Regions from separate parts of the Homo sapiens genome. Here region 1 is linked to region 2. A link means that fine-mapping ties the variant in region 2 to the expression of a gene that starts in the linked region. Tissue or cell type: whole blood. Region 2 holds a variant in brackets; the other region holds the start of a gene. All regions are shown on one strand. Distances are from middle to middle.

What was found. PIP is the estimated chance that this variant, and not a neighbour inherited with it, causes the effect.
Region 1: AMN1-AS1 starts here. The variant in region 2 is fine-mapped to the expression of AMN1-AS1 in whole blood (TOPMed, PIP 0.98).

The regions. Positions count from the first base shown.
Region 1 is chr12:31,723,438-31,734,009 of GRCh38, reverse strand. It overlaps AMN1-AS1 (AMN1 antisense RNA 1), which reads right to left and starts at 4,745. Exons shown (of 1, transcript NR_198987.1): 1 at 2,806-4,745. It overlaps AMN1 (antagonist of mitotic exit network 1 homolog), which reads left to right and starts at 4,989. Exons shown (of 7, transcript NM_001113402.2): 1 at 4,989-5,039. The coding sequence starts at 5,002. It overlaps LOC105369722 (a long non-coding RNA gene), which reads right to left and starts at 10,221. Exons shown (of 3, transcript XR_931497.3): 1 at 10,093-10,221; 2 at 9,371-9,442; 3 at 5,120-5,353. RefSeq lists enhancers at 1-790, 4,481-4,680, 4,076-4,708, 4,721-5,070, a cis regulatory region at 824-1,051 and a silencer at 5,121-5,200.
Region 2 is chr12:31,818,167-31,828,738 of GRCh38, reverse strand. No RefSeq gene overlaps it. Among named protein-coding and RNA genes, the nearest start is that of H3-5, 31 kb to the right of the region's middle. The variant A/G (reference allele first, on the strand shown) is at 5,326.

The sequences.
Region 1 (10,572 bases), 95 kb after region 2:
TCAGTGCTTGAGATATTTTCCAGACCCTGCAATTGCCGGATCAGCTGGCACCACCCAGATGGATAAACTGGCTAATCTGATCTTGTGGCTCCCACCCAGGAAGTGACTCAGCACAAGAAGACAGCTTCAACTCCCTATGATTTCATTTCCGTCCTGACCAATCAGCACTCCCGGGTCACTGGCTTCCCCCAACCCACCAATTTATCCTTAAAGATTCTGCTCCTGGCTGGGCGTGGTGACTCGCACCTGTAATCCCAGCACTTTTGGAGGTTGAGGTGGGTGGATCACCCGAGGTCAGGAGTTCGAGACCAGCCTGACCAACATAGTGAAACCCCGTCTCTATTAAAAATACAAAATTAGCCGGGCGTGGTGGCACATGCCTGTAATCTCAGCTACTTGGTAGGCTGAGGCAGGAGAATCACTTGAACCCAGGAGGCAGAGGTTGCAGTGAGCCAAGACAGCGCCACTGCACTCCAGCCTGGGTGACAGAGCAAGACTCTGAAAAAAAAACACAAACAAAAAAAAACTCTGCTCCCCAAATGCTTGGGGAGACTGATTTGAGTAATAATAAAACTGTCTCCCGCACAGCTGGCTCTGTGTGAATTACTCTTTCTCTATTGTAATTCCCCCGTCTTGATGAATCAGTTCTTTCTAGGCAGGGGGCAAGGTGAACCCCTTAGGCGGTTACAAATTCAAAGGCCACAGTTCCTTTCAGGTGGCTTCACCTGTGGTCACTCTGGCAAGGTTTTGGTTTTGCCCTCCAGGACCAGAAGAGGTAAGGTCTTCCTGCTATTGTAGCGCTATGGTATTGAACTACCTTTACCCTTGCTCTGCCCTAACTCTGTCCACACCTTTGGGAACAGCTCCTTTATTAACATCTCCTTGCTTCTCCTGTTTGAACTTGCCCAACTCTTAACCTGCTTGGATCCTGAGTCATCCATTGTATGACTCAGACTCCTGAGAATTTGAAAGTCACAGATCTCTAACCTAGAAACAAAGCAAGTGTTTCTAGCCAATGGGAAATTTCAACAATGTATAACAATCCATGAGCATGGGCACTGTTATTTCCAATTTGGAGTGTGATATTATAAAACAAGCTATGAAAAGAAACTAAATAAAAAGACGTGTTATTTTCTCAAAGGACACTTGGAGAGTTAAGAGCAATCCTATTTGAAAATAACCTACACATGGTAGGATAATAAAGTAGGGGCTCACTTGGCTTAGCTCCGTTCTGTTCTTGTGAAAGCACACATTCATATAAATAAGATATACTTGTTTTATATATATTTATTGTATTTTAAAACATGGGTCCACATACAGCTCATATATTACATTATGAATTAACAGCATGATTTAAGAAAAGTAATTTTGTTAATTATTTTTATAAAACAAACCCAGAGGCCGGGTACGGTGGCTCACGCCTGTAATCCCAGCACTTTGGGAGGTCGAGGTAGGTGGATCACAAGGTCAGGAGTTCGACACCAGCCTAGCCAATATGGTGAAACCTCGTCTCTACTAAAAATACAAAAAAAAAAAAATTAGCCTGGCATGGTGGCACATGCCTGTAATCCCAGCTACTTGGGAGGCTGAGGCGGGAGAATTGCTTGAATCCGAGAGGCAGAGGTTGCAGTGAGCCGAGATTGCGCCACTGCACTCCAGCCTGGAGTAAAGTAAAACAAACCCACAGCAACAATCTATGATAACGTTTACTTTGTATGGTAGCTATGGTAGGAAGTGGAGGAGATTCTGAGCTAGAGGAAACTATATTAAAGTGGGCACAGCAAACAGAGAGGAGAAAAGGAAAATATCTTGCCCTTAGCCTAACCCTGCCTACAAATCACTTACCATACACTAGAAAAGACTTTCATTCCCAATAACTTTGCATTCAAAGATAAACCATGAATAGCGGGAACCTCCTAAAAGCCTTGACTAACGGGAAATCCTAAAAGCTTTGCCTCCAGAGATAAGCCACAAAAACAAGAACATCCTGTTTTCCTTACCACAAAACAGGAACATCTTGTTCTTATCCAATTGGAATGAACTGCCATATCTGAGCTATAAATATCTGCCATTTCATCTGAGCTATAAATTCCTCTATTCTATTTAGCGAGCCACTCTCTGAAAGTCTGATTTTCTTGAACTGCAAGTAAAAATGTCTCTCTGTGCTCATATTTGTCTTTGATTTTTATTTTGACATAGGGTTCCTGAACTGATTTTTGGGGGGGGGAATCCTGAAGTTGGACGCACCCAGGGCTGGCTTCATGGGTGGGCAAAATGTGCAGTCACACGGGCCCCACTCTGGGTTTAGTGCTCTGCTATCACCATCTTAAAATTCGTAATTTCTTTGTTTTTTTTGAGGTAGAGTCTCACTCTTGTTGCCCAGGCTGGAGTACAGTGGTGTGATCTCGGCTCAGTGCAACCTCCGCCTCCTGGGTTCAAGCAATTCTCCTGCCTCAGCCTCCTGAGTAGCTGGGATTACAGGCACCTGCCACCACGCCCAGCTAATTTTTTTGTACTTTTAGTAGAGTTTCTCCATATTGCCCAGGCTGGTCTCGAACTCCTAACCTCAGCTGATCCGCCCACCTTGGCCTCCCAAAGTGCTGGGATTACAGGCGTGAGGCATGTGCATTTTAGCTTTCTAGATCAGGTGAGGGCACATGGACAAATGGCTCAAGGGTCAAATCCAGTCCACTGTCTGTTTTTGTATAGCTTGCAACTTAAGGATGGCTTTTACATTTTTCAGTGGCTGAAAAAGATCAAAAGATGAGTATTTCATGACAGTTGAAAATTACATAAAATTCAAACTTCAGTGTTTAGGATAAGGTTTTATTGGAACAGAGACCCACCCATTCATACTGTCTATGGCTAATTTTAAGATACAAGTTGAATAGCTGTGACCAAGCCAGCATGACCCACAAAACCTAAAATATTTCTTGTTTGGCTCTGGGAAGCTAAAAGACAACAAAGAAAGAATTCTCCAAAGATACTGAGTTTCTTTGGGAGTGAACAAAAAGAATTATAATCCAAGATGTACAGCTATGGCAAGCCACGGGTCTGGAGAAGGGAAGAATAGGGGGAAGATTTTACTGGTAAAGGAGGGAAGTTCACATAAACTCTTGGAAACTAAGTTGATTGGTTCCCAAGGCTCAAATCAAGAATTGGAGTCCGTTCATTGGTGGAGGTCCTGCTGCTGGGCCAAACGTCCTTTCGACAGTATCTTATCTGAACTGCTGCAGTTTTAAAGAATATTTAGCAATAAATCTTGTCATAGAAATGTGCGCATATTTGCAAAACAAGCAAGTTGTGCAAAACATTAAATGCATGAAAGATGTGAAGAAATTGTGGGTTTTTTGGTTTATTTTTTAAAGTCCTTGAGGCAGTTCGTTCTTTCTTTTTTTTTTTTTTTGAGACGGAGTCTTGCTCTGTCGCCCAGGCTGGAGTGCAGTGGCACGATCTCGGCTCACTATAACCTCCTCCGAGTTCAAGCGATTCTCCTGCCTCAGCCTCCTCAGTAGCTGGGATTACAGGCGCCCGCCACCACACCCAGTTTTTTTTTTTTTTTTTTGTATTTTTAGTAGAGACGGGAATTTCACCACGTTGGCCAGGCTGGTCTCAAACTCCTGACCTCGTGATCCGCCCGCCTCGGCCTCCCAAAGTACTAGGATTACAGGTGTGAGCCACCGCGTCTGGCCTTGAGACAGTTCTTATCTCAGACATACAAGCATGAGTTTCCTTCCTTTCTGGTCTCTAGGCTCCAATTTGTCTGGGTCTGACAATAGTTACTTCTCCTGGAATCTGCAACTTTCAGAGCACTTTATGGAAAAAGTCGGCCAACCCCTGCCCTACACTCACTCTTGATCACTCTCCAGTGTAGCCATCCCAAACTATTTGCAGACCACCCTTTTCTCTCTGATCTGTATCCCACCCCCATGGGTGCTTCCATAGAACTAACCCCATCTAAGCATTTAACAGTTATTCTAATTGCCCTTTTACTTGTCTGACCCAAGTGTTCGCCACTCAATCCTCAGCACCCAGCACGATCCCTAGCCCTCGTTCAGCGCTTAATAAATCCATGTTGATTCAATGTGTAGCATCCTGAACAGGCAACAGCAGTGGGTTCCAACTTTCAAGGAGCTTAAAAAAGGAACTCAGCATACAAACAACAGACTAATCTACAAGGAAGAATGAGGGGGGTGGAGGGAGCACTAAAAAGCAGCAAGTACTCTGCAGCAGAACCAAAGATAAAATTCCACCTAAAGGTGCCCTTTCTTCAGGATCCTTCCTAATTTGAATACAGGTTCCCTTCTCCTCCATGACGAAATTCTTAGTGAGGTTACTTGTTGGTACGCAGTGTCCTCATCTGTAAAATAAGGCTAAATAATTACGATTTCACCGGATTATAATGAATATGGTTAAGTATTGAACTAAGGCCTAGAAAGCACGTAGCTCAGTGCACGCTTCCTAGAAAGTGCTCAGTAAACTCGGATCCTCTAACACGCTCCGTTTGATGTTAATGGAGTCCGTATCCGAGCGGGTCTCCAGTGTGCATCGCCAAGGGTATGGCCCAGCATCCAACGCATCCTTTTAGTAAGAGTAGCGACTTCTCAGCGCTCCCTTCGCCCCAGGAGAGTTCTCGGCTCGCGGCGTCGCGGCGGGGCTGCGCGCTGGGCTGAACTCCCAAGAAACCTCCTGCAGCTGAACCGGAGCAGACGCCCGCCAGGTGAAAGAACTACAACTCCCGTCACGTTGCATCCGAGTTTAGGGCCTCTTTATAGTTTATCACACCCAGCCTCTTCCGCGCAGCCCTCAGTGGCTCCGCCCCAAAGGGGGCTCTCTTCTTTCCTTGTGGAGTCCGAAGCGTGGCCACGCCCCGGTCACCGGAAAAATCCGTGTGACGTCACAAAAACCTACGCGTCGCGCGGTGGGCGGGAGTTGGCGGACGGTCCCTGGCTGGGTTCTGGAGGCCCTGGGACCGCGGAAGAGGCTTCAGACGCTGCAGCGATGCCTCGCCCACGGCGGGTCAGTCAGCTCCTGGATCTGTGAGTCTACCCTGTCCCGCCTCCCTTCGCGCCGCCCCAGCACCTCCTCCAAACGGCCAGGCCCTGCGCTGCTCTTCCTCCCCGCCCCTTTCCCACCCCCCCCGCCGACCTCTGAAGAGGCCCCGCGTGTGTTTCTGTCCCTGGGTTCCTGATCTGTCGTTTCCTGGCTGAGGACAGTTGTGCAAAGTGGGTCTCTTGGCGGGCTTGCCCCTCCAACACTCCGCTGCGCGATGAGCGTCCATTCCTCCGTCAGCCTTGACAGCTCGGCGCCCCGGCTGTTACTGGCAGTGGCCTCTCTCTTAGCAGCTAAAAGCCTTGGTAGAAAAAAACACAACGCTAGATGAGGTTCTCAAAAGCTTCTAGCAGAATTCCACCCCTGTAACTGGAATAAACATTGACAGACCCTGGGATAAAGGTAACAAAGTGGTTAAGACCACGGATCCCTGGCTGAGATTGCTGGGTTCAGCCCCCGGCTCTGCCATTCACCAGCCACGTGACCATGGACCGGTAACGTAACCTCTCCCTGTGCCTAGGTTCTTTATCTATAAAATTTTTGTGATAATAGCACCCATCACATGGAGTTGTCCTGAGGGATAAATTTAAAACATGTAAAACCCTTATAAGGATGCCCAGCAAATAATAAACACCACTAAGTGTTATTGTTATTATTATTTCCTACCAGAAATTGTACGGAAATGGAAGTTACAAGGGCAATTGCGTCTCTCCAGGAGCTTTCAGTCCGTTAATATTGCCATGTAAAAAATAGACATCTTAAGGATAAGGAGAACAATCTCCTTAATCTACTGAAGGCTTTCTGAAACAATGGCATCTGATATTTTACATTAAACTTGGGAGGCCGAGGTGGGAGAACTGCTTGAGCTCAGGAGTTCGAGACCAGCCTGGGCAACGTGGCGAAACCCCGCCTCTACTAAAGATACAAAAATTATCTGGGCACGGTGGTTCACGCCTGTAATCCCAGCACTTTGGGAGGCCGAGGCACTTGAGATCAGGAGAGTTGGAGACCAGCCTAGCCAGCACGGCAAAACCGCGGCATGTACTAAAAATACAAAAATTAGCCAGGAGTAGTAGTGGCGCCGGTAGTCCCAGCTACTCTGGAGGCTGAGGCAGGAGAATCGCCTCAACCCAGGAGGCAGAGGTTGCAGTGAGCTGAGATCGCGCCACTGCACGCCTAGGCTGCTAGGCGACAGAGCGAGACTGTCTCAAAAAAATAAAATAAATAACTATAATATATGTAGAATAATATCACAAGCGGGAGAGTAACAAACTTTTGAAATTTCTAATAAGGAAAAGAATAGGAGAAAGCTTTGTCAAGGGGGTTATTTTTGAACATTGGTAGTATCTGACGGTTGCAAATGGGAGGAAATGTATCGTAGAGAGTGAAATAAAAAGAGTAAAGGTTTGACAGGCAGGAAAGGTAGAAATATGAGAGAAGACCAGAAAGTAGCGCTCCAATGTGAATGGAAGATACAATATGAATAGCACAGTAGTGAGACATAAAGCCAGGTCATTGGGAATAGAATCTTAGGGACCAGGATGAAGTAAGAGCATTTCCTCTTTCAGTCATGGGGAGCTATCAAAGGTTTTAGAACTGTACTGTGAGCAGAGAGAGATTTGAATTAGGCAGAAGTTGGAAATAGGGAGACACTTAGAAGACTGTTACAAAATCTTAAGAGGTGAAGAGCCCAAACCAGGAGACACATGAAGATGTTCTTTGCAGAATTATTTCTGGTGGCATGGAGCTGGAATGGGAGAGTTACCATGGAATATTATGCAGCTGTTAGAAAAGCAAAGGGTAGGCCAGGCATGGTGGCTCACACCTGTAATCCCAACATTTTGGGACCCTGAGGAGGGTGGATTGCTTGAGGCCAGGAGTTGGAGACCAGTCTAGGCAACATGGCAAAACCATGTCTCTACCAAAAATAAAAAGTTAGCCAATCTCATAACCTGGTCTCAAAATAAATAAATAAATAGATAAATAAATGAAAGAAAAGCAAAGAGTAGATTCATTTGGATAGAATTTTAAAACACAGTGCTTAGTGAAAAAAAGAGGAAACAGACTAACAATGTTAAGAAAAATTCTTCAGAACTTGGGGCTAAGACAGGGATGACTACATGATCTTCATTGTCATGCTAGAGTGTGGTCCCTAGGTAAAGGTCCATATTTGCCCTTAGAACCTAATTTTGTACCCTTCTGGGACAAGGTACAGTCTGAGACTGGCAGTTGGTCAGCAAGCTATTTCTGGTTTGTAACAAAGTAAGAAGCTTGAGCCAGACTAGTAATTAAGTGTGTCACTAAGCACATTATTTAGTCCAGCTGATGAGGCTTTCTCCATGAAGGAAACAGGGCTTGGTTTATGTTCTTGCATAAACTCCTTATCTCCTCACTGACCAGCACTTTAACACTGCTTTAGAGAATCCTTTGGATCTGGGACATGAATAGTTTTGAATAGAGGGACCGAGGAAAGAGAAGAATTAGAAATTACTCTTTTAGTTGGGGGCCGTGGCTCACGCCTGTAACCCCAGCACTTTGGAAGGCTGAGGCAGGTGGATCACCTGAGGTGGGGAGTTCGAGACTAGTCTGACCAACATGGAGAAACCCTGTCTCTACTAAAAATACAAAATTAGCCGGCCGTGGTGGTGCATGCCTGTAATCCCAGCTCCTTGGGAGGCTGAGGTGGGAGAATCGCTTGAACCTGGGAGGCAGAGGTTGCGGTGAGCCGAGCTTGCACCATTGCACTCCAGTTTGGGCAACAAGAGCGAAACTCCGTCCCCCCAAAAAAAAAAAAAAGAAATTACTCTTTTAGTTTTAGCTTCGTTGACAGGTAGAATGGTGATTAGACTATTATGGAGGAAGAAGTGTCTTACGGGGAAAATGAATCAGAATATCCAGTAGAAATATCAAGCAGGCAGTTAGAATATAATTTTGAATCTGAAAGAAAGATCAAGGATTAGGCTGGGTGCAGTGGCTCATGCCTGTAATCCCAACACTTTGGGAGGCCGAGGCAGGTGAATCACTTGAGGTCAGGAGTTCGAGACCAGCCTAGCCAACATGGTGAAACCCTGTCTCTACCAAAAATACAAAAAAAATTAACTGGGCATGGTGGTGCACATGTGTATTCCCAGCTACTTGGGAGGCTGAGACAGGAGAATTGCTTGAACCCAGGAGGCGGAGCTTGGAGTGAGCCAAGATGGTGCTACTGCACTCCAGCCTGGGCAACAGAGTGAGACTCCATCTCTAAATAAATAAATACATAAATACACAAATAAAATGAAGAGAGATCAAGGATTGAAACTAAGATTGGGGGTATAACTTTGTAGATGATAGGAAGCCATGGTTAAGTTTAAAAGAGGGCTATAGAGAGAAAAAAAGAAAGTCAAGGACAAAATTTTATGTAACACTTACATTAGAAGCAGTCCATGTTGCCAAAACTCTTTTATTTGTTAGATCAATTCACCATATGATGATTTGGCCAAATAGTAATAGGTTGTTTCTTTTAAGTATAAAACGTAGAGCAACTATTATTGGTTGGGATATCCACCCGTCTCCCCAATTGTTTTACAGCTTTTAAAGATTATAAGTTTTAGCTGACTTCTTTTCATTTTGTCTTGAGAAATGAGACTGCCTGTGCCAACTGTGGGGCCTGAGAATCAACACCACTTATGTCAACCTAACTTTTTGCTCTAGGAAATTTTTGCAAATCAGTTTATCTAAATAAACAGCTATCAGGACAAACATTTTGATTTTTAGGACAAACATTATGTTTATCTGGACAGATTGCTCATCAAGCCTGGCTTTTTGTGTCCATCCGTTTTAAACTAAGTCACAAACTTTGCCTAATCCTTACCCATTCGCCACTGTGGGGGGAGAAGCACCCACTTAAACTGGTGGCGTTTATATCCCAGAAACTTATGTATACTCTTGCCTAACATTCCTCTATTGAAATGCTACCAAAACCCTGTCAAGATGATCTCCCTTGCTGTAGTAAATGTAATACATGATTTGACAAATTTAATCAATTTGTTTGACCAGCAGGGTTTCTGGATGGGCTTTGTGGCCATTCAATAGTCCTCCCAGAATTTTAAGAACTATTTGATTTGTTTCTGTCCCAACTCCCTGCTATTGCAGCTGGAGGGAACTGGAGCAGAAAGAGGAAACCATTTACTTTGGGAAACACATGGTACAGCCTCTGCACTGCTGAGCTCAGAGAAGAGCATACTAAAGGGCTAAGATGAAAGAGACTGAGAGAAAAAGGTGGCGGTGGGGGGCAGAGAGCCATGTTGTAGGAAAAAGGTAACATATTGAAATATACCTGAAATCTTGCATAAAGCAAAATACAGTAGTCTCTCCTTATGTGCTGTTTTGTTTCGGCAGTTTCAGGTACCTGCAGTCAACCATGGTAAAAAAATATATATATATGTTAAATGGAAAATTCTAGGAAGAAACAATTCATAAATTTTAAATTATGCACCATTTTGAGTAGCATGATGAAATCTCATGCCACCCTGCCCTGTCTGCCCAGGATGTGAATTCTGCCTTCGTTCAGCATATCCATGCTGTCCATTTAGTAGCCTTCTTGGTTATCAGAGCTATTGTCGCAGGGCTACTGCATTCACATAACCCTGATATTACTTAACAATTGCACCAGAGCACAAGAGTACTGATGCTGGCATATTGTTACATGTATTTTTTATTTTTCCACCCAATCCTTGTAGATGTTGTTATAACTGTTCTATTTTATTGTTGTTGTTGTTCATCTCTTACTGTGCCTAATTTATATATTAAACTTTACCACAGGTATGTCTGCATAGTAAATGCAGGGTGTATATATAGGATTTAGGATTCAGTACTATCCATGATTTCAGGTGTCCACAGGGAGTCTTAGAATGTTTTTCCCATGGATAAAGGGGATCTGCTATATAACAGGAGTGATTGTCAGTCACTTCAAATGCTTTACTTTTCTCTAATCCCCTACTCACAGAGGTCATGTGCAAGAGGAACAAGAGCATTTTTATAAAGTTTACACAGACTTACCTTGTTTCCTTGCTTGACTGGTGTGGGTCACTGTAGGGGTACTTGGTGAGCAGTATCCTCAACCAAGTGGTAGTTATCTTTGTTATCTAGGGCAGGAGTTGGTAACCTTTCTGTGAAGGGCCAGAGAGTAATATTTTCAGCTTTGTAGGCTACACACCCTCTGACACAGTTACTCAGCTCTGCCATTGTAGAACACAAGCAGCCACAGACAACACATAAAGAAATGGCAGCAGCCTGAGGATGATAAGGGGTGTGAAACATCTGTTGAATACCTTGACTATCGGCTCATTGTTGAGCAACCTTTGCAGTAAAAGACCTATCATTGTCAGAGTGAAAGTGGTCTGCTTTGGGAGGCCGAGGCGGGTGGATCACGAGGTCAGGAGATCGAGACCATCCTGGCTAACATGGTGAAACCCTGTCTCTACTAAAAATACAAAAACTTAGCCGGGCATAGTGGCGGGCGCCTGTAGTCTCAGCTAC
Region 2 (10,572 bases):
CCAATTTGGGTACCCTTTATTTCTTTCTCTTGTCTGATTGCTCTGGCTAGGACTTCCTCCATTAACTTCTTTACAATTATCTTTGCAATCTGAGTTTACTCCTTATTAAATTTGTTCTCAATTCTTTAGGAAGATTGAATTTTAGTGTATAAATCCTGTTGACAAATGAGGTACTAGAATGATGAGAATTCTCTTTAAGAGGCCATTTCTGAGATAAATCTACATAGCAAGTAGGTCTAGTTGCTCAGTCCTTACACCTCCAAGGGAGCCTGGAATCATGATTGACCCTTGGCAAACCCTCGGAAATGTTCTTAGGATGTTCTTTATGTCACTAATTGATGATTTTGTTGTGTACACTTGGAGCAATGTACCATGCCATGCTGGCTTGCTAATTTGCTTTGCACAAACATTGAGATTGATGATGTACCCCTGGTCTCATTGTTGTGATCCTGAGTTTTGGTTGCTATGGCTAATCGCATAACAGGATATGTCTTTGTGATTGGTCCCTGATAAAAGCCTTAGACTCTGAAACCTGAATGGGCTTCCCTGAGCAGAGACATTTCACATATGTTCATTTCTAGAGAGAAAATACATCCTGTGTGACTTCAGATGAAAAAAGACTTGAAATATATGTTGGATCTCTCTAAATACTGCTACAGTCTCATCAATATACCATAATGTAGTAGTCTCTTGTTGTGTAGTATCACCAGGAGTTCTTTGTCTTATGACCATGCAAATTAAGGAATGTGGATGCAAAGCGTGAGGTTGGAGTGAAAGTTTAATAAATGAAAGAAGAAAGCTATCTATAGTGGAGAGGGGAGCCCAAGTGGGCTGCCGTTTTTACAGTTTAATTTAAAAGGTTTTTGGTTTGTTTGTTTGTTTGTTTGTTTGTTTGTTTTTTGAGATGAAGTCTTGCTCTCGTCCCCCAGGCTAGAGTGCAATGGTGCGATCTTGGCTCACTGCAACCTCCACCTCCCGGATTCAAGCAATTCTCCTGCCTCAGCCTCCCAAGTAGCGGGATTACAGGCACCTGCCACCACACCTGGCTAATTTTTGTATTTTTTAGTAGAGATAGGGTTTCACTTTGTTGGCCAGGCTGGCCTCAAACTCCTGACCTCAGGTGATCCACCCACCTTGGCCTCCCAAAGTGCTGGGATTACAGGCATGAACCACCGCACCCGGCCAGAAGTTTTTTTGTGTGTTTTTTGTTTGTTTGTTTGTTTTGGAGATGGAGTCTTGTTCTGTCACCCAGGCTGGAATGCAGTGGCATGATCTTGGCTCACTGCAACCTCCACCTCCCAGGTTCAAGCAATTCTTCTGTCCCAGCCTCCCGAGTAGCTGGGACTACAGGTGCCTGCCACCATGCCCGGCTAACTTTTGTATTTTTAGTAGAGATGGGGTTTCACCTTGTTGGTCAAGCTGGTCTCAAACTCCTGACCTCAGGTGATCCACCCACCTCGGCCTCCCAAAGTGCTGGGATTACAGGCGTGAGGCACCATGCCCGGCCTGATTTTTTAAAAGTTTTTATAGGAAACTCCTCTCATCTCTTTAGTTGTTGAGTAACTTATCTGTAAAGTCGTCTGCATAACTCCACACTATCTACAGGTGTGAGCCACTGTGCCTGGCCCAGGCTGACTCTTGTTAGGGACTAATGCAACCAATGACTTTAAGTTGGAGCCAGTGCTCACTGACCATTCTGAAAATCCTAGGGCTCGTAAGAATTATGCTAAGTTGGGCCAGTCGCGGTGGCTCACGCCTATAATCTCAGCACTTCGGAAGGCTGTGGCAGGCAGATCACTTGAGGTCAGGAGTTTGAGACCAGCCTGGCCAACATGGTGAGACCCTGTCTCTGCTAAAAATATAAAAATTAGCCGGGTGTGGTGGTGCACACCCATAATCCTAGCTACTAGGGAGGCTGAAGCAGGGGAACTGCTTGAACCCAGGAGGCAGAGGATGCAGTGAGCTGAGATTGTGGCACTGCACTCCAGCCTTGGCAGTAGAGTGACACTACATCTCAGAAAAAAAAAAAAAAAAGAATTATGCTAAATCTACTCTATTGCTCTATAATTGTAACAAAAAAGTCTGAATGACAGCACATCTGTTTACAGCATGATTTACTGAATTACTATTATTATTATTATTTTTTGAGACAGGGTTTCCCTCTGTCATTCAGGCTGTAGTGCAGTGGTCTGATCTTGGCTTACTGCAACCTCTACCTACTGGGCTCAAGTGAGCCTCCCACCTCAGCCACCTGAGTAGCTGGGACTACAGGTGCATACCACCATGCCTGGCTAATTTTTTTATATTTTTGGTAGAGTCAGGGTTTTGCCATGTTGCCCAGGCTGGTCTTGAACTCCTGAGCTCAACAAATCCACCTGCCTCAGCCTCCTAAGTGCTGGGATTACAGGCATGAACCACCACACCTGGCCAATTGACCGAATATTTTAATCCCACTGTTGAGACCTACTGCTCCAAAAAAAAACCTTCCTTTCAAAATATTACTACTCATGGACAATGTTCCTGGTCACCCAAGAGCTCTGATGGAGATGTACAAGAAGGTTAATGTTGTTTTCATGCATCCTAACATATCCACTTAGCAGCCCATGAATTAAGGGGCAATTCTGACTTTCAAGCCTTCTTATCTAAGAGATACATTTTGTAAGACGATGGCTGCTACAGATAGTGATTCCTCTGATGAATCTGGGCAAAGTGGATTGAAAACCTTTTGGAAAGGATTCACCATTTTAGGTGCCATTTGATTCATGTAAGTAGGTCAAAATATGAACATGAACTGGAGTTTGGAAGAAATTGATTTTAATCTTCATGGATGACTTTGAAGAGTTCAAGAGTTCAGTAGAAGAAGTAACTGAAGATGTAGTGGAAATAGCAAGAGAACTGGAATTATAAGTGGGGCCTAAAGATGTGACTGAATTGCTTCAATCACATGCTAAAAAAAGCTTTAATGGATGAAGAGTTGCTTTTTATGGATGAGCAAAGAAAGTGGTTTCTTGAGAGGGAATATATTCCTGGTGAAGATGCTGTGGATATTGTTGAAATGATAATGAAGGATTTAGAATATTCCATAAATTTAGTTGATAAAGCACCTTTAAAAGGATTTATTACAATTTTGAAAGAAGTTCTACTATGAGTAAAATGCTATCAAACAGCATAACATCCTAGAGAAATCTTTTGTGAAAGGAAGAGTCCACCACAGCCAGCATTATACTGATTGGGGAAAAGTTGAAAGCATTCTCTCTGAGAACTGGAACAAGACAAGGATGCCCACTTTTATTACTTCTATTCAACATAGTACTGGAAGTCCTAGCCAGAGCAATCAGACAAGAAAAAGAAACAAAGGGCATCCAAATCAATAAAGTGGAAGTCAAACTGTCCCTGTTCAGTAAAGTTTCAGAATACAAAATCACTGTACGCAAATCCGTAGCACTGCTATACACCAACAGCAACCAAGCTGAGAATCAAATCAAGAACTCAATCTCTTTTGCAACATTGCTGGAAAAAACAAAACAAAACAACAAAAGCAAAACAAAACAAAACAAAACCAAAAAAGCCACAAAATACTTAAGAATATACTTACCAAAGCAGGTGAAAGGCCTCTGCAAGGAATATGCTGAAAGAAATAACATGCTGAAAGAAATAACATAAACAAAACATGCTGAAAGAAATAATAGATGACACAAACAAATGGAAACATATCCCATGCTCATGGATCAGTAGAATCAATATTGCGAAAATGAACATACTGCCAAAAGCAATCTGCAGATTCAATGCAATTTCCATCAAAATACCATCATCATTCTTCACAGAACTAGAAAAAAAGCTGGGCGCGGTGGCTCACGCCTGTAATCCCAGCACTTTGGGAGGCAGAGGTGGGCAGATCATGAGGTCAGGAGATCGAGACCATCCTGGCTAACACAGTGAAACCCCGCCTCTACTAAAAATACAAAAAATTAGCCGGGCGTGGTGGCGGGCGCCTGTAGTCCCAGCTACTTGGGAGGCTGAGGCAGGAGAATGGCGTGAACCCGGGAGGCGGAGCTTGCAGTGAGCCGAGATTGCGCCACTGCACTCCAGCCTGGGTAACAGAGCGAGACTCCGTCTCAAAAAAAGAAAGAACTAGAAAAAAAATTCTAAAATTCATATGGAACCGAAAAAGAGCCCGCATAGCCAAAGCAATACTACATAAAAGGAATAAATCTGGAGGCATCACATTACCCAACTTCAAGCTATACTCCAAGCCTGTGGTTACCAAAACAGCATGGTACTGGTATGAAGAAGATAGGAACATAGGACCAGTGGAACAGAATAGAGAACCCAGACATAAAGCCAAATACTTACAGCTATTTGATCTTCGACAAAGCAAACAAAAACATAAAGTGGGGAATGGACATCCTATTCAACAAATGGTGCTGGGATAATTGGCAAGCCACATGTAGAAGAATGAAACTGGATCCTCATCTCTCATCTTACACAAAAATCAACTTAAGATGGATCACAGACTTAAATCTAACTCCCGAAACCATAAAAATGCCCTAGAAGATAATATCAGAAAAACTCTTGTAGACATTGGTTTAGGCAAAGAGTTCATGACCAAGAACCCAAAAGCAAATGCAACAAAAACAAAAATAATTAGATGGGACCTAATTAAACAAAAAAGCTCTGCACAGCAAAAGAAAGAATTAACAGAGTAAACAGACAACCCACAGAGTGGGAGAAATTATTCACAAACTATGCATCCAACAAAGGACTAGTATTGAGAATCTACAAGTAACTCAAATAAATCAGCAAGAAAAAACCAAATAACACCATCCAAAAGAGGGAAAAAGACATGAACAGACAATTCTCAAAAGAAATATACAAATGGCCAACAAACATATGAAAAAATGCTCAACATCACTAATTATCAGGGAAATGCAAATTAAAACCACAATGAGATACCAGCTTACTCCTGCAAGAATGCCCATAATTAAAAAATCAAAAACTAATAGATGTTGGCATGGATGTGGTGAAAAGGGAACACTTCTACACTGCTGATGGGAGTGTAAAGTAAATGCAAACGCATTTACCACTACAGAAAACAGTGTAGAGATTACTTAAAGAACTAAAAATAGAACTACCATTCCATCTAGCAATCCCACTACTGGGTATCTACCCAAAGGAAAAGAAGTCATTATATGAAAAAGACACCTGCATGTGCATGGTTACAGCAGCACAATTCACAATCGCAAAGATATGGAACCAACCTAAGTGCCCATCAATCAATGACTGGATAAAGAAAATGTGGTATATATGCACCATGGAATACTACTC[A/G]ACCATAAAAGGGAACGAAATAATGGCATTTGCAGCAACTTGGATGGAGCGGGAGGCCATTATTCTAAGTGAAGTAATTTAGGAATGGAAAACGAAATATTGTATGTTCTCACTTATAAATGGGAGCTAAGCTATGAGGATGCAAAAGCATAAGAATGATACAATAGACTTTGGACTTTGGAGACTCAGGAAAAGGTGGGAGGGGAGTGAGGGATAAAAGACTATAGATCGGGCACCGTGTACAATGCTCAAGTGACAGTTGCACCAAAATCTCAGAAATCACCACTAAAGAAAGTATCCATGTAAGCAAAACCACCTGTTCCCCAAGAACTATTGAAATAAAATAAAATATTTTAAAAATGAGTCCATCAATGCAGCAAACTTTTTTGTTGTCTGATTTGAAGAAGTTGCCACATCCACTCCAGCCTTCAGCAACCACCACTCAGATCAGTCAGAAGTCATCCATGTTGAGGCAAGACTCTCCACCAGCTTTTTGCTGATGACACAAGATGACAACTCAATTAAGGCTCAGATGATTGTTAGCATTTTTTCAGCAATAAAGTATTTTATAATTAGTGTATTTATGTTGCACATTTATGACATAATGTTATTGCATACCTAGTAGGTTACAGTATAGTGTAAGCATAACTTTTACATGCACTGGGAAACCAAAAAATTTGTGTGACTTGCTTTATCACAATATTCACTTTATGGCAGTGGTCTAGAACAAAACCTGATATCACAAAACCTGATATTCCTGATATATGGGCTTATCTCTGAAGTATACCTGTATCTCAGTGAAGATGTTATTATTTATTTATTTATTTGAGACAGAGTCTCACTGTGTCACCCAGGTTGGAATGCAGTGGCACGATCTCCACTTACTGCAACCTCCACCTCCCGGGTTCAAGAGATTCTCCTGCCTCAGCATCCGAAGTAGCTGGGACTACAGGCATGTGCCACCACACCAGGCTAATTTTTTTTGTATTTTTAGTAGAGACAGGGTTTCACCATGTTGGTCAGGCTGGTCTCAAACTTCTGACCTCAAATGATCTGCCCACCTCGGCCTCCCAAAGTGCTGGGGTTACAGGCGTGAGCCACCGCGCCTGGACAAAGATGTTACTTGCTTTTTTTTTGAGACGGAGTTTTGCTCTTGTTGCCCAGGCTAGAGTGCAATGGTGTGATCTCGGCTCACTGCAACCTCCGCTTCCCGGGTTCAAGCGATTCTCCTGCCTCAGCTTCCCCAGTAGCTGGGATTACAGGCACCTGCCACCACGCCCAACTAATTTTTGTATTTTTAGTAGAGACAGGGTTTCACCATGTTGGCCAGGCTGGTCTCAAACTCCTGACTTTAGGCTATCCGCCTGCCTCGGCCTCCCAAAGTGCTGGGATTACAGGCGTGAGCCACCGCGCCCGGCCAAAGATGTTATTTTCTATAAAGGCAACCGTTAGAACCTTCAACTCATTATTTTTAGGCTGACAAAAACATCTGTTATTATTATACCACACTATGTATTGTGAATAGTTTATTTTACAAGCATAATAGAGTATTTTGAAATTACACTCTGCTAGAACCCCTTGCTAGTTGTTAATTTTACCTAGAAAAGACTCACAGATTCTTTGTTAAAATAAGAAATCTAGCAAAGTCAGACTTTTCTCCCTACCACCCCACCCAACCCCATTATACACAAAAGAAAAGAGGAACAGTCCAGATGTGGTGGCTGACACCTGTAATCCCAGTACTTTGTGAGGTGGAGAGTTGGGCAGATCACCTGAGGCCTGGAGTCTGAGATCACCCTGGCCAATATGGTGAATTCTCATCTTTACTAAAAACACAAAAATTAGCCGGGCATGGTGGCCCGTGCCTGTAATCCCAGCTACTTGGGAAGGTGAGGCACAAGAATCGCTTGAACTCAGGAAGTGGAGGTTGCAGCGAACAACCACTGCACTCCATCCTGGGTGACAGAGCAAGATCTGTCTCAAAAAAAAAATAAATAAATAAAATAAAATAAAATATAAAAAAAAGAGATGAGAAACAAATGATCAGATTTGCAGAGTAATCTTTCAAGAATTTATCCTATTTACACATGCAGAAATGTCAATTACAACATTACTATCAGGGCAACAAATTATCAAGTAAAGCTACCAATCAGAATTATAATCTATGAGAAAGGAGTTCACTCAGCTTATTTCCAGGAGTACCTGGAGTCACGGTACCAACCCTTAGCCAACCACTTGGGGCTAAGTCCTTGGAGTTAACATAGTCACCAATGAAGTTGTTTTGTGCTCCTGAGGCACTGAGGCATGACATGCTCAATTGCCAGCACTGCCTAACACAAATATCAAGATGTGCCATGAGCACCTGCCTCCTGGGTAAAGATCTGCACCATAGATTGTCACGTGGGAGGAATGTGCCTTGTGCAACCAGACTCCTGTAAGAACTCCGGGACCTCAGACCTAAGTGGACTTACGTGGGCAGAGACATCTCATATATGTTCGTATAATTTGTAGTCGTGCCAAAAGCACCTTACTGTGACCAGCATGGAGGGAGAACCTAGAAGTCTGCACCTAATCTTTCGGGTCTTCTTGTAGGCATAACTTTTTTCTGCTGATCCTGTATAATATCCTTTGCTGTAATAGGCTTTTAGCCATGAGAATAACCTGTTACTCAGCCAAATGCGTCCTGACAAATCTCAAAAGTAGTATATTCTCAGGACCCATAAAGCACAAGCATTTTTCCAAAGGTAATTTTCAAGGCCAGGGCAAGTAAGTTTCTAAGTCTTAGTTTTATAAAACTCTTTTTTCAAAGAAAATGACTTACAATAAGAAACCGAAGATTCACACCACTCTCCATATTGCACAAAAGAGAAAAAAGATTGATATTTTTGTCAATATCGACCATTTGACACTTTACAAAATCAGATATTTTGAATATGTGTTATATCTCAGAAAGACATCCTCCTCTCTGTGCTATAGGGGAGAGGAGCATATCCTTTATTTATTTCCAAGACTTCTGTTAATTACAAAGGCTCACATTGATAAGCCAAGCTCTGGATTTTCATTAGTTAGCATTATAAGCAAAAAGCAGGCCTGTGAGATCAATTTTACTGGCATAAATGCAGTAAAGAATGAATAAGATATAATAATAACTGAAATACAGAGCCTATAGCATTATTTTTCCACAATATGTAATCACATATTTATAAATCTGAAAATAAAAGAAATATCATTAGAATGTCACTCTGTACAAATTTATGGCAATATGCACAAAATACACTAAAAGCTGCCTTATTTTTATGCAGTTGCATGCTCACATATATATTTCTGTAACAGACAATTTTACTTTGATGTGACAGGAGATAATCGATCTTGAAGTTAAAGATAATAAATTTGGGTGTGACTAAGGTGTATAAATTTCAGTTGATCTATATAGATTTATAGCAAGATGGTTAAAATGTGAGGTTGCTCATCAGAGGCATAGGGTTATCTTAATTATCTCTGATATGTAAATCATTTACTTTTCACAAAAGGCCCTCTTTCTTGTGTAAACACAAACAACCATAAATTAAAATAAGTAGCAGATGACTAGTATGCTATTTTATTTTGCTTTATGAACAAAAGTAAACCTGCTTTGAAGACACAAATAATCTTTCTTGTAAGTAGGTACGTATCCGGCACCTTATTACATAGAAGAGAGCACCAGCACCAGACCCTGCCAAAATGAAACAAAACAAGAACTGGCAAAATGATTGTTTCTAATATAAGCCAGGAAATTGTTTCACAGGTCAAGAATGAGGAAAACTTTTTTTTTTTTTCCTAAGATCTTACCTCTTATTGTCTTTAGGAGTTCCTGTTTATTATTGAGGTCATGTGTTTTGTTACCAGGTCAACTAGCTTACTCCTGCACTGATGATCCTGGAATGAAAGTTTTTTTTATTGAAAGTCTATTTGCAGCCAGGTGTGGTGGCTCACACCTGTAATCCCAGCACTTTGGGAGGTTGAGGCAAAAGGATCCCTTGAGCCCAGGAGTTTAAGACAAGCCTGGGTTACATAGTGAGACCCCATCTCTACAAAAAATAAAAAATTAGCTGGGCATAGTCTCAGCTACTCAGGAGACTGAGGTGGGAGGATTGCTTGAGCCCTGAAGGTGGAGGCAGCAGTGAGCTGTGATTGTACCACTGCGCTCGAGGCTTGAGGACAGAGCAAAACACTGACTCAAAAAAAAAAAAAAAAAAAAAAGAAAGAAAGTCTACATCCAATAGCCAGAAGTATGTCTCTAAGGTCCTTGACCTTCCAAGTATAATGCAAAACACAGAAGAGATTGTTTTAGAATGATAAATTTGACTACTAAGCAAAAAATTATGCATGGCATAAGTCACAATTAACAAAGCCAAAAGAAAAATGACAAATATTTAATAAGAATATCTGGAAGCACTCAAGATCCATTAAGGCAATTGGAGTGTAATATCAGGCAGAAAGAACTAGAATGTAACTGAACTCAATATATTGATTGGGTTCTAATCCTAAAATACTGATTTTTATACTGTCCAAAGAAAGTTTGCAATCAAAACAAAGGTCAGAAGAGATAAGTAAAGGACAGCCAGAGAGCAAGATTTTGCACTGATTAGCTCTCACTATTCAGAGTCCAGAGAAATTTACTATAGTGGACACAAATACTCTAGTTGTTCCATAGTTATATACTATTGTGGGATAAGAATGGTTTATTTCAGTTTGGATAAAGTATCTCTTAAAACTATATAACTCCTGTTATTCCAGTTTCACTCTCCTTTAAGTAAACTGATTCTGTCAATACTTACCAGTTACTGGACAGGCACAGCAGCTCACACTTGTAATCCCAACACTTTGGGAGGTTGAGGTGGGTGGATCACTTGAGGTCAGGAGTTCGAGACCAGCCTGGCCAACATAGTGAAAACCCGCCTCTACTAAAAATACAAAAATTAGCTGGGTGTGGTGGCGGGCACCTGTAATCCCAGCTATTCGGGAGGCTGAGGCAGGAGAATGGCTTGAGCCCAAGAGGTGAAGGTTGCAGTGAACCACCAAGATCACGCCACTGCACTCCAGCCTGGGTGATGGAGTGAGACTCTGTCTCAAAAAAAAAAAAAAAAAAAAAAAAAAAAAAAAAAAAAAAAAAAAAAGATACTTACCAGTTACCAAAAAGAGAACATGAAAAATATATGTAATTTTCACTATAAATTTTTCTGGTAGATATCCTGGCTTACATAGTTT